3 linked regions of the Homo sapiens genome follow. The protein of the gene in region 2 purifies or fractionates together with the protein of the main gene of each other region. This does not show direct contact. Each region holds a gene or a part of one and is shown on either strand. Other genes may lie near its edges.

What was found. Proteins that work in one complex are often made in the same cells at the same time.
Region 1: the proteins of ZNF213 (region 2) and GNE purify together in Homo sapiens (affinity purification with mass spectrometry; one large-scale study listed by BioGRID and IntAct). This does not show direct contact.
Region 3: the proteins of ZNF213 (region 2) and BMP1 purify together in Homo sapiens (affinity purification with mass spectrometry; one large-scale study listed by BioGRID and IntAct). This does not show direct contact.

What each region holds. Positions count from the first base shown.
Region 1 is NC_000009.12:36,213,195-36,217,807, forward strand, and holds the end of GNE (bifunctional UDP-N-acetylglucosamine 2-epimerase/N-acetylmannosamine kinase), read right to left. Parts: intron 4,407-4,613; coding exon 4,171-4,406; 3' UTR 1,247-4,170; downstream 1-1,246. UniProt on the Homo sapiens protein: Bifunctional enzyme that possesses both UDP-N-acetylglucosamine 2-epimerase and N-acetylmannosamine kinase activities, and serves as the initiator of the biosynthetic pathway leading to the production of N-acetylneuraminic acid (NeuAc), a critical precursor in the synthesis of sialic acids.
Region 2 is NC_000016.10:3,137,022-3,141,018, forward strand, and holds part of ZNF213 (zinc finger protein 213), read left to right. Parts: exon of another isoform or gene 1-67; coding exon of another isoform or gene 68-259; coding exon 260-658; intron 659-1,332; exon of another isoform or gene 1,333-1,396; coding exon 1,397-1,520; intron 1,521-1,723; coding exon 1,724-1,797; intron 1,798-1,953; coding exon 1,954-2,077; intron 2,078-3,614; coding exon of another isoform or gene 3,615-3,667; coding exon 3,668-3,997. UniProt on the Homo sapiens protein: May be involved in transcriptional regulation.
Region 3 is NC_000008.11:22,206,259-22,211,117, forward strand, and holds part of BMP1 (bone morphogenetic protein 1 isoform 3 precursor), read left to right. Parts: intron 1-595; coding exon 596-723; intron 724-1,044; coding exon 1,045-1,258; intron 1,259-3,186; coding exon 3,187-3,437; intron 3,438-4,859. UniProt on the Homo sapiens protein: Metalloprotease that plays key roles in regulating the formation of the extracellular matrix (ECM) via processing of various precursor proteins into mature functional enzymes or structural proteins.

The sequences.
Region 1 (4,613 bases), on a different chromosome or scaffold from region 2:
GACCTGCTAATCCCATTCCAAATGTCAAAATCCAATTTAAGAACTAGTTCAAAGGCCACCCCCCTTCCCCTGAACTCCCATGGCCATCTACCTGGGGCAGCTTATTTTTGGTAGTCTTGGTGCCATCGTCTGGACCAGTCTTGCCTCCCACACCAGCTGGGCTTCTTGAGGTGGGAGGTGGCAATTTTAAATGTCAACAAAATCTGTGACATTCTCTAGATGGAGAGGTGACTGAATAATGTGACAAAAGTGATGCTGGGATGACTTCCAAGGCTAGGTCATAAAAGGCAGTGCTGCTGATGGTTGATTTGTTGGAGCAACTAGCTGGTGGCCCTGAGCCGCCTCATAAAAAATTCTACCTTTGAAGCTACCCATGTGGTGAGGAAGCCCAAACTAGCCCACAGAGAGGCCACCTGAGAGACCCTGTAACCACACACATTGGGAGATGCCTGGCCAGCCAGCCTCGTGCTATTCCAGCTGACAACTACAAGTGCAGGATACTCTTGAGCTACAACTGTCAAGTTTGAGCCTTTCCCAAATCCTGACCCACAGAAACCACGACGTGAAACAATTACTGTTGTTTTAAGCTCTTCAGTTTTGAGGTTACACAGCAATAGTAATTTGGGATTGTTTCTAATGCCTGTATGAGACCCACATAGGGCCTCATAAAAAGAGGGAGTGGGTCTAGGGACTCAGTAAATGCTTAACACTTAGTTTCAAACCTCTTTCTTGGGGGCTACTTTGCTTTTTTATGCCAAATTTTCAATGTTATATATAGCAATGTTTTGTTTTTGTTGTTTTTGAGACAGGGTCTCACTGTGTCGCCCAGGCTAGAGTGCAATGGCATGATCATAACTAACTTACTGCAGCCTCCACTTCCCGGGCTCAGGTGATCCTCCCACCTCAGCCTCCTGAGTAGCTGAGACTGCACCATGCCTGGCTAATTTTTTTTGTATTGTTTTGTAGAGATGGGGTTTTGGCATGTTGCCCAGGCTGGTCTCGAACTCTAGGGTTCAAGCAATCTTTCTGCCTCAGCCTCCCAAAGTGCTGGGATTACAGGCATGAGGCACCATGCCCAGCCATGCTTTCTATTAATAGACTTTTTTTGGTTAAGAAAGCAATGATATTAGAGGCCTTAAGGAAGTTATATAACCTTCAAAACGTAAGCAGTGCAACAATTAAATCTCTTCTGGGAAGGAAAATGCTTTTGGCTAATGAGTTACGAACAAAACAAAATACAACAGGATTTCAACAAGGAAATGTATTTATTTTTTCTTTAGAATTTGGCTCAGAACAGTAACAAAAATATTTACATTAAAATAAATTAACATGCAATTACTTAACCATATGTAATAATTTACGTTGGAATATATTAGCCTTCCCATGAGTTTAATAAAAACTAATATTTGGTTTTAGATTCAATACCATCCTTTCAAATATTTGGTATGAAACTTGGTAGCAATGCAATTGTCTGATGTACAGAGCAGATTTCACCATGAGAGATTACACCAAAGAACAGATGTCCCTTCCCAGAACATTATCTCACCCCAGACTCAGAAACTGAGCAGCCAAGCTTCCTTCCCAGGAATCACCATGGAATGTCTGAACAATAACCAGGCCCTGGAGATTACTGCAGGGCTGGCAGAGTTTTAGGAATCAGCCAAACTCTTTTTCACACTAACCCACTAGGAAGGATATAGTTCAAATGTAATGTTGAGTCCTTCAGTTTATTTGAACACTGAAACAATATGTTGTAGAAACCTTCATTTTCCCAAAATAGAAATCTGAAAGATATATGCACATGATTTCTTAGATCATCTAAAAGTACCCATAAAAACCTGTCACTAGGGCCAGGTGTGATGGCTTACACCTGTAATCCCAGCACTTTGGGAGGCAGAGGCGGGCGGATCACCTGAGGTCAGGAGTTCAAGACCAGCCTGGCCAACATGGTGAAACCCTGTCTACTAAAAATACAAAAAAAAATCAGCCGGGCGTGGTGCATGTGCCTGTAATCCCAGCTACTCAAGAGGCTGAGGCAGGAGAATCACTTGAACTTGGGGGGCAGAGGTTGCATTGAGCCACTGCACTCCAGCCTGGGTGACAGAGTGAGACCCGTCTCAAAAAAATAGAACACCTGTCACTAGACCAAATACTATACTGGTAAAATTTCACAGCAGAGAGGAATATTTCATTAAATTCAGCTGATAGGGTCAAGGATACATTAAGTCATTTACAAATCAGATATTAGTATTAAAGTTTTTGGTGGCCTAGAGTGAATTAGAATATGTTAGCATTTTGAAAGTGTTTTTGAAATGAGAGGTTGTGTGGCTCAGCAGCAAAAGCACAGAGGGACCTGGGATCAAACCCTCTCTCTAGCCCCATAGCTTAACAGTCAAACACACCAAGTTCTATAAAATAAAAATTAAAACACCTACCTCATATGTTGAGATAATTTAGGATAATGTATATGAAGCACCTAGTTCAGAGCCTGGCACACAGTAGGCACTTAATAAGTGGTGGCAGTTAGTATTTCTTCCAAGTTAACAATTCATAGCCAGAACTTTGGCTTTTGTATTTTGACACCAATGAAAACACGAATCATGTAGACAGAATCCTGATTCATGGCTCTGGGCTCTAGGTAAAACTCAAAACTTTAATGGACACCCTAGGGTGTTACTCAACACAGTATGAAAGGCTACTGAAGGAAGAAGTGTCTGCTGGTCAGTAGCAAAGATCCTTTTGGGACAGTTAATCTCCTTTTAAAGGCTCTAAGTCCCAGTGGCTTCTCAGCTGTCCTAAGAAGATAAGGACAAGGTCACTAAGGCCACTGTAATTTAGATCCCTGGTCTAAAGTCTCTTGTAAGTTCAGCTAGAGTAATAACATCTTTCAACAAATGGTATCCAGGATTAGGGGGGATATCTGAGATGGGGGAGTGATAGATATGTCCAGTGTCTTGATTGTGGTGATGCTTTCACAGGTATACATATGTCAAGGCTTATCAAATTGTAGGCTTTAAAAACAATAAAGCTGTTTTAAAAAAAAGTGTACTTAAGCCCTTCCTGGTAAGATTTCCCTCTGTTCTCTGACTGGATCACCTTCTGTGATCTTAGTTTGGGGTTAGAGGAGGAAGGATGTGTGTGTGTGTGTGTGTGTGTGTGTAGACGGAGTCTCGCTCTGTCACCCAGGGTGGAGTGCAGTGGCATGATCTCGGCTCACTGCAACCTCCGCCTCCCGGGTTCAAGCAATTCTCCTGCCTCAGCCTCCCGAGTAGCTGGGACTACAGGCACATGCCACCACGCCCGGCTAATTTTTGTATTTTAGTAGAGATGGGGTTTCACCATGTTGGCCAGGCTGGTCTTGAACTCCTGACCTCAGGTGATCCGCCCATCTCGGCCTCCCAAAATGTTGGGATTACAGGCGTGAGCCACTGCGCCCAGCTGGAAGGATTATTATTATTATTATTATTATTATTATTATTTATTATTATTATTTTTGAGATGGAGTCTTGCTCTGTCACCCAGGCTGGAGTGCAGTGGTGCGGTCTCAGTTCACTGCCAGCTCCGCCTCCCTGGTTCATGCCATTCTCCTGCCTCAGCCTCCCGAGTAGCTGGGACCCGCCACCACACCCAGCTAATTTTTTGTATTTTTAGTAGAGACGGGGTTTCACCATGTTTCACCATGTTAGCCAGGGCGGTCTCGATCTCCTGACCTCGTGATCCGCCCGCCTCGGCCTCCCAAAGTGCTGGGATTACAGGCGTGAGCCACTGTGCCCGGCCTGGAAGGATTATTAATGCAAACTTCAGGATGAAGTGATATCCCAGGCAAGGCCTGAAGGTCTCAGTGGTATTAATACATTAGTAAGCAGAGTTCTAAGAAGGCTTCCTCTCTATTATTGTAGCTGCTTTGGCACAGAAAATTGTGACTGTAACTTACAGGGTTTGAGCTAAAATGACCCCTAGTAAGAAGACATCAGAAAGAATAGCATCTACAAAAATAGGAGTGGGGAAAGGTGACTCTGGAAGAGGAGACCAAAAGTGAAAACATTTCTCTGCCAAAGTCACCTGCAGTTCAATACCAGATTTGATTGTTAAGAAACGGTCATCCTAAAGACAAGAACTTGATTCCACTCAGGAGCTCTGGAGAGAAGGTCCATGTCTGTTCCTGGAGGTCTAGTAGATCCTGCGTGTTGTGTAGTCCAGAACCATGCTGGCAGCACCCAGCAGGGCGGGGTCAACCAAATCCGAAACCACCACATCCACGTCCTGCACGGAGGACAAGGCCTGCTGGCGAATGACGTCTTTGACAATGTGGATATAGTGACTGGCCAGGACTCCGGAGAGGATCACAAGGGAGGGATTCATGGTATGGAGGATGTTCACAACCCCAAGACCCAAAGCTGTTCCAGCTATAGGGAGACAAAAATTAAAATGAGTTTCTGAGAGAAGCCAAAATCAAAATACCAAAGAGGAAGGCAGAAAAGAGCCAGCAGCAGAAATGTTAAAGAACATCCACGGCATGCAGTGGGAGGCAGTGTTTTAAAAGCAGTTCACGGTTGATTCTTAATATGAGAAAATGATCATGTGACAGCCTCAAGTGGAAAAAGCCGGGTGTA
Region 2 (3,997 bases):
TCACATGAGCAAGGCATTACAGTAAAGCCTAGAAAAGGCTTCAGGGCCATGAAAGGATGGGGACTGGATGGCTCTTCAGCCTGGGGTTTGCTCGTGTATTCCACATCCTTCCTCCTCAGTCCTGCCATTTTGCTCTTTCCCCAGGAGTACACATCCAGATGCCAGCCCAGCTACCACAGGGGATCCCTCTGGGAGACTGAAAGTACAGGTTCTGGGGCCCAGGTTGAAGCCGACCAACCCTGAGCCTCAGGCCAGGGGAATGGCAGCCCCCTTGGAGGCCCAGGACCAGGCCCCTGGGGAGGGAGAAGGGCTTCTGATTGTGAAAGTGGAAGATTCCTCCTGGGAACAGGAATCTGCCCAGCATGAGGATGGCAGGGATTCCGAAGCCTGCCGCCAGCGCTTCCGGCAATTCTGCTACGGGGATGTGCATGGGCCTCATGAGGCCTTCAGCCAGCTCTGGGAGCTCTGCTGCCGCTGGCTGCGGCCCGAGCTGCGTACCAAGGAGCAGATCCTGGAGCTGCTGGTGCTGGAGCAGTTCCTGACAGTGCTGCCAGGGGAGATCCAGGGCTGGGTGCGTGAGCAGCACCCGGGAAGCGGTGAGGAGGCTGTCGCCTTGGTGGAGGACCTACAGAAGCAGCCAGTGAAAGCCTGGCGACAGGTGAGGGGCCCTTCCACATCCAGGGGCACCTGGATGGTATCTGAGCTCGAGAGAAGTGGGTAACCTGCAGAGATAAGTCTCCCAGAGGCTCACAGGGTAGGGGAGACACAGAGCCCCCAGGAGCAGGCACACAAGCACAGTGTGCCATGGGTGCCTTTCTGAAAGATGCGATCCAAAGTAAATGTGATTTATTTTTTGTGGCTTTGGAAGGCAGCAATAGGGCTGAAGTGCGAATGTTCCAGACAGGAGGTTTTAGCTCCATGCAGGGTCTGCTGATGTTTATTTGCATTTTGCTCTAGGCCTGGCTCTGGGGACACAAGGGTGTGCATAGAGCCAGCTCCAGAGTGGGGCGAGAAGGTGGAGCTGTCCGGGGCCTCTGCTACCTTGTGGGATGTTGGGTCCTTCACATTGGATGCATCTGGGGAGGTTCTAATGAGTGGCTGGGGGATGGGGTTCTGCCTTTGGCAGGAGGGTCCCCAGCTACCCCCTTGCTAAGTGGCTGTGATTCTGGCCTTTCAGGGCTGGTTCTTGCCTCGTGAATGATCGGGGAGCATCCTTGGGCACACAGCATTACCTGGTATCACATTCTCCTCCGGACTTTTCCTGGGGCACCATATTGGTCTCCTTCCCACACCCCAGCATCCTGAGGGTCATGTCCTGTGTCTCCTTCCCAGGGAGTAAACTCTGTCTCCCCCGGTCTGGTCTCGGGCTGATGAGCATGTTGTGGTTCCTGCACAGGATGTGCCCTCGGAGGAGGCGGAACCCGAGGCTGCAGGCCGGGGATCCCAGGCCACGGGGCCTCCCCCGACGGTGGGGGCACGGAGGCGGCCGTCTGTTCCCCAGGAGCAGCACAGCCATAGCGGTGAGTAAGCCTCCGTTCTTGTGGACAGTCGAGTGGCTGGGCAGGGACCTAGCTTTGTCACCGGCGTTGCCCTAAGGGTCACAGGCAGGACAGCTCCCTCTGTGAAGTCCAGGGCGTGTGTGCATGCGCACAGGCTGGGGAGGCCATAGGCGTCGGTGTCAAGCCTGGGCTGGCCTTTCTAAGGCTCCATTCTTCTCCTTCAGCCCAGCCTCCTGCTCTTCTTAAAGAGGGTCGTCCCGGAGAGACGACGGACACCTGCTTTGTCTCTGGGGTCCATGTGAGTCACCAGTCCCTTTGTCTTCTTTAAGGCACTTGGCCCTGTTGAGTTTGTAAAATGGGACTTGCTGTCCCATCAGGCCTCTTTCATCTGACCCATCCTGTCCCCGCCAGTGCTGCTGGGAGGCCTGAGCCGGGTCTTCTCACCCCATTCCAGGGACCTGTGGCATTGGGAGACATCCCATTCTATTTCTCCCGGGAAGAATGGGGCACCCTGGACCCTGCTCAGCGGGATCTCTTCTGGGACATAAAGCGGGAGAACTCCCGGAACACCACCCTGGGTAAGCACCCAGGGCCTTTGGGTCCAGGCTGGCCGCCCCCGATTCTGCTGGAACTTCAGTCTTGTTTCCCACCCCATCCTTAGCTGGTTCCAAAGCAGGCTCTCCCTAGGTCTTGCCAGGAGCCTGAGTAACTCCTTTCTTGGCTGATGATCAGTTTTTGTGCGTTTCCACATGCAGCATGGGACGGCGCCGGCGCTGCCCAGCCCTGCAGTTGCTCTAAGGGCAACTTCTCCTTTGAGTCTCACAACCTAGTGCATGGAAGTATTGTCCCCATTTTACGCATAAGGGACCTGAGACTCAGGTCAGTGGATGCTGAAGGGACACAGCTGGGACTTGGATCAGGCACAGTTGTGAGGCCACCTTGGGCTGCTAGGAGCAGGGGTGCTGACGGGGAACCCCAGCTGCTCACCAGCCTGGGCCCCTGCTCGTCAGAACTGCACTTACCAGGTTCCTCTCCATGCCAGGCCCCTTCTCAGCACCATCAGGGATCATCTTGTTCAGTCACACTCCCAGGAGGATGGGCTGCGACCTCTGTCCAGATCTGTGTTGAGTTTGGAGAACTAGAGCCTGCGTGGTGAAGGGAGCCACACTAGCTAGACCAGTTTGGCTCCTCAGTTTCCGACTGTGACGGTTGGGAAAAATTTTCTTTCTTTTTTTTTTTTTTGAGATGGAGTCTTGCTCTGTCGCCAGGCCGGAATGCAGTGGTGTGATCTCAGCTCACTGAAACTTCCACCTCCCGGGTTCAAGCAATTCTCCTGCCTCAGCCTGAGTAGCTGGGATTACAGGCATGAGCCACCATGCCCGGCTAATTTTTTTGTATTTTTAATAGAGACGAGTTTTCACCATGTTGGTCAGGCTGGTCTCGAACTCCTGACTTCATGATCCGCCTGCCTCAGCCTCCCAAAGTGCTGGGATTACAGGCGTGAGCCACCGCGCCCGGCCCTTGAAAAGTTTCAGAATTACTATAAATCTGTTCTGCTGTGGAGCTTGATATCTGGGGTTCAGAGTGGGACATTGGATCCCAGTGTGGCCTGCAGGGCACAGATGGCTTAGGGGGCTGGCCCATGCAGGCGGGATCAGAGGCTTATTCAGACTGCTGCTCTGCCGAATTTTTTCATCATCCCTGATTTATTTGGGTTTTTGTTTGTTTTTGAGACAAAGTCTCGCTCTTGGAGTGCAATGGCATGATCCCGGCTTACTGCAACCTCCGCTTCATGGGTTCAAGTGATTCTTCTACCTCAGCCTCCTGAGTAGCTGGGATTACAGATGTGCGCCACCATGCCCTGCTGATTTTTGCATTTTTTAATAGAGACGGGGTTTCACCATGTTGGCCAGGCTGGTCTCGAACTCCTAACCTCAGGTGATCAGCTCGCCTCAGCCTCCCAAAATGTTGGGATTACAGGCTTGAGTCACTGCGCCTGGCCAATCATCCCTGTTTTATAGATGAGGAACCTGAGAATTCAGCTGTGTGAACCCAGGGCTTTCTGAACCTGGAGGCCAGGGAGCTTTCCCCAGCCTTGTTTCTTCCTCACCTCAGCTCTGGCCCCAGAACCGCGTGGGACTGAAGAGGTCGCCTCCTTCCCCTTGCAGGTTTTGGGCTCAAAGGCCAAAGTGAGAAGTCCCTGCTGCAGGAGATGGTGCCGGTGGTGCCAGGCCAGACAGGCAGCGACGTGACTGTGTCCTGGAGCCCCGAGGAGGCTGAGGCCTGGGAGAGCGAGAACCGGCCGAGGGCGGCCCTGGGCCCAGTGGTGGGCGCGCGACGGGGGCGGCCACCCACTCGCCGGCGCCAGTTCCGGGACCTGGCAGCCGAGAAGCCGCACAGCTGCGGGCAGTGTGGAAAGCGCTTCCGCTGGGGCTCGGACCTGGCGCGGCACCAGCGCACGCACACGGGCGAGAAGCCACACAAGTGCCCTGAGTGCG
Region 3 (4,859 bases), on a different chromosome or scaffold from region 2:
TGGGAGGCCAAGGTGGGTAGATCTCCTGAGGTCGGGAGTTTGAGACTAGCCTGGCCAACATGGCGAAACCCCGTCTCTACTAAAAATACAAAAATTAGCCAGAGATGGTGGCGCACGTCTGTAATCCAAGATACTGAGGAGGCTAAGGCAGGAGAATCACTTAAACCTGGGAGGTGGAGGTTGCAGTGAGCCGAGATCACACCACTGCACTCCAGCCTGGGCAACAGAGCGAGACTCCATCTCAAAAAAAAAAAAAAGAAAGAAAGAAAAGAAAAATGGAGAGGCACAGGTGATATGACCCCTGTGGCCCAACACCTACAAAGGTCTGGGGGTTGTCCAGGGAGCCTGCGATGGCTGCTTCATGAGTGCTGCCATGTGAGGCCTCACTCAAGGCTTTTGTAGGAATCGGGCAGCTAGATTTTCCCCAGACGCAGTAACCTCATGAAAAAGAAACGATGCCTGCCTGCCATCCAGTTCATAAGTGGGACAAGAGATGGAAGAAAGGAGGGGGGGCAGGAGGGAAGGGCCTTCCCCACAGGAGGCATCGGAGCTTGGGGTCCCTCTCTATCCCCTTCCGTCACTCGCTTCCCTGCAGCCGGCTGTGACCACAAGGTGACATCCACCAGTGGTACCATCACCAGCCCCAACTGGCCTGACAAGTATCCCAGCAAGAAGGAGTGCACGTGGGCCATCTCCAGCACCCCCGGGCACCGGGTCAAGCTGGTAAGGGGTCCCCTCCCCACTCCTTATGCGGTGTGGCTGCCCCCGGTCAGAGGCACTGCCCAGAGCCACACAGGCTGCAGGCTGAGCCCAGAGGTCTGCCATCCCCAGGAGACCCCAAGTCTGGCCTGGACAGAGGCCCCTTTCCCAGTATAAATTAGGGGCGTCCCTGCCTTCGCCCTATTCCTGGGCCCTCCTTCACTGTCATCCCCAGCTGTGGCTGCTCCCATGGGTATCTGTGAGGCCTAGGTTTGGGGCCCTCATCCTTGCCCCACCTGCCTTCCAGCCAAATTTTTAATCTGTGCTCCTTCCTCATCCCCCTAGACCTTCATGGAGATGGACATCGAGTCCCAGCCTGAGTGTGCCTACGACCACCTAGAGGTGTTCGACGGGCGAGACGCCAAGGCCCCCGTCCTCGGCCGCTTCTGTGGGAGCAAGAAGCCCGAGCCCGTCCTGGCCACAGGCAGCCGCATGTTCCTGCGCTTCTACTCAGATAACTCGGTCCAGCGAAAGGGCTTCCAGGCCTCCCACGCCACAGGTACTGTCCCCGGTTGTGGGAGTGTTCACTGAGCCTGGTCTCCAAGACTGGGGTAGAGTCGGGGGTTTCAATGCGGGTATGAAGGTACAGAGGGACTGAGCCCTGCGACCCAGGGCCAGGGTTGTGGGTGATGCAAACATTGTGTCCTGAGAACCAGGCCTGGGGGGCAGGGATAGGAGGGTGTGGTTAGGGGTTAGGATGGCAGTGATGACGATGGACAGGAGAGGTGAGGGAACTCAGGGACAGAGAGGAAAGCCCCCAGAGGTCCCCCTGAGCGTACGCGGGCCACCGCAGCAGCCCAGCCACACACCAACCCTGAAATATACTCTATTCATTCTCTGATATTTATTTTTTTATTTTTATTTTTATTTATTTTTTATTTTTTGAGATGGAGTCTTGCTCTGTCGCCCAGGCTGGAGTGCAGTGGTTCGATCTTGGTTCACTGCAACCTCCACTTCCTGGGTTCAAGCGATTCCCCTGCCTCAGCCTCCCGTGTAGCTGGGATTACAGGAGCCTGCCACCATGCCCAGCTAATTTTTGTATTTTTAGTAGAGACAGGGTTTCGCCATGTTGGCCAGGCCAGTCTCAAACTCCTGACCTCAGGTGATCCGCCCGCCTTGGCCTCCCAAAGTGCTGAGATTACAGGCGTGAGCCACCGTGCCCAGCCCATTCTCCTGATACTTATTGACATGTAACATGGATGAGGCGGCATCCTAAATGCAGGTCCCAGAAACAGACCAAGCAAAGATCCCAGCCCTTGAGGGGCTTGCTCGGCTTTCACTTGCTTGTTTATTTAGCAGCCATGAACTGAGCTCCGCTCTGCGAGAGGACTAAGGGGCACGTGGCCTGAATCAGGCATGAGCCCTTCACTCCTGCCCCCCACCCCATACTAGGAACTCGCAGTCCAGGAGAGAGACAAGGCAGGCACCGCCCGTGACAGCATGAGCCCAAGCGGGAGCCAGGCAGGAAGAAAGGCACCCCGGCCTAACTGGGCATGTGTTGGTAGAGGCATTCGAGGCAGGGGGAGGTGCCCAGGCAGAGACACAACCCCAGCCCAGCCCAGAGTGTGCCCAGGTGACAGCAGGTCATTTACTTTGGCCGAAGCAATGGGTGTGTGAGGACAGCAGGTTGTGGGAATGATGTGGCTGCAGAGAAAGGCTGGAGTCCAGGGGGATGCCTTGAGTGCCAGACCAAGGATGCCACGAGGGAGCTTTGCAGTCTCCTCCTGGGTCCTAAGCCACCTGTCAGGGCATCCCCAGAGCTGATGGTCCACAGCCTCCCCTCTTCCCCTTCAACTCAGTCCCTGACCCAGCCCCGTCCTTCCCTCTCCCCACCTCCTCTAGCGAGACCTGAGTGCCAGGTGCACAAAAGCCAGAGGGCCTGGGGAGGAGGGTGGCCCCATGCACTGTCCTCTGCCCTTCCCAGCACAGGGTCACAAACCGGAGGCCCGGAACTCCATCTGGCCCTCAGACCTGCTATGTTTGGCCCACACTGTGTTTTTTTTAAAAATGTGAGCCAACACTTAAAAGTTAGGAGTTTTCACATAAAACCCAGATGTACGGCTTCTCTCTTGAAAATGGAAGCTGTGGCGACACTGGGCCCACATTCTTCCATGACAGCCATCAGCTGGAGAAAATGAGCAATGCCCTCTTTAGACAAAGTGTGTGGTGCCTCGTGCCACCGCTCCATGCTGTCTTCCTCTCGGTGAGCCTCACTGCCTGTTCCCCTCAGCCTAGGGCCAAGGTCCCTCTATTTAGAGATGGGGCAGCACAGCAATGTTCTGGGCCAGGCCCCCACCCACCCATCACTGGCCTCGTGGCCTTCACCCAGGCCTCCATCCTGCCGTGAGGGCACGCCATGGCATAGTGTGCCATGGGGCCTGGCACCTGCGGTGCTCAGGGCTGGTTGGCCCCTCTTGTCCCCTACAGAGTGCGGGGGCCAGGTACGGGCAGACGTGAAGACCAAGGACCTTTACTCCCACGCCCAGTTTGGCGACAACAACTACCCTGGGGGTGTGGACTGTGAGTGGGTCATTGTGGCCGAGGAAGGCTACGGCGTGGAGCTCGTGTTCCAGACCTTTGAGGTGGAGGAGGAGACCGACTGCGGCTATGACTACATGGAGCTCTTCGACGGCTACGACAGCACAGCCCCCAGGCTGGGGCGCTACTGTGGCTCAGGGGTGAGGCCCCCACCCCTCGCCCTCCTGGCCCCATGCCCCACGCCCCACACTGTCCTCCACCCTTCTCAGCCCAGTCTCCAAGACCTAGCGCCCACACAGGCCCCGGAAGTTGAGTGCAGCACGCGTGTGGCCCTGTGTGGGAGCCCAGAAGCCCAGCCTTGTTGGGGCTACTCAGAGACACTGCCCCATCCCCGACGTAGGAAACCAAGTCCTTTCTGGGCAACCTAGAAGTTCCTGCGGCCTCTGACCCAGGCCTGCCTCAGAACCAGTTGGCCACGGCCTGGAGCGGATGGAGCTTCCTCTGTCCCTCCTTTCCTTACCCCTCCCCCAAGGCAGCCCACCAGGGCCTGGAATGGGGGGCAGAGGTTGGCACCAGAGCCGGGGACAGGGCGCCTGAGCGGAGTGGCCCTCACCAGTCCTTTTGCCGGAGGCATAAACACTCTTGTCATTTCCTCTACCAGTTTCTCCTCCTGATGAAAGGCCAGCTTGTCCCAAAGCTCTTGCTGCTGCTGTCCCAGTGGCCCCTGGGCACTGCTTCTTGGTCCATAAAATGGCACGTTAAGAGTCAATGAGCAAAAGTAGGCTTGATGGGCTTTTCCCTAAGGACATGGGCTAGCCTCGTGGGGAGGATTTATTTTCCTCCCTGTAAGAGCTTGCAGCTGCCTCTTCTTCTTTTTTTTTTTTTTTTTTTGTCCTTTCCTGAGGGCTTCAAAGAGACAGACTGTCTTCCTACCCATCTCTCTCTCTTTCCCTCTCTCTCTCTCTCTCTCTCTCACACACATACACACACACTGGCACACCCACTTGCATGCACTTTCAAATACACTGGCCCTCCTGTCACCTCCCTGTCCCCTTGCCTATCTCATGGCTGTATCCCAGGCAGCCTGGGTGCCCCAGGAAGGGTTAAAGCTCCTGGAAGCTGCAGCAGCTGCTGGACCCAGCATTGGCTGAACCTCCCCCAGGAGCAGAGCTTCAGCCCTCGTGTGGCTGGCAGGGGCTGGGACAAGGTGGAGCCTGAAGCAGCTTGGCTGCCCTGGTGTCCCCTGGCTGCCAGGCTAGTGTCCCCTCCCCTCTTTGCTCTTTCTTCTGAATCACACACCAAATCGGATGTCCCCAGGTGTCTTCTTCCAGAGACCTCCCCCAGGCTGAGTTGACCGGAAGGAACTTGGGGAAGGATCAGGGCCTCCTGGCACAACTACTCGGAATGTCCTCAAGGTTCTCAGAAATGATTTCTTCTGTGCCTGGAAGGCCAGGGCGTTGACGTCCGATGCTCTGAGGGCTGACCTCACTCAGTAGGCTTGCAGGAGGCACCTAAGAAGGGCTCGGGAGCAGACCTTGGCCAGGTGCCAGAGGAGAGGCGGGGCAAGGGGTAGGGATGGCAGAGTCCAGGCCTGGGGGGCACTGTGCTTCTCTCCAAAACTT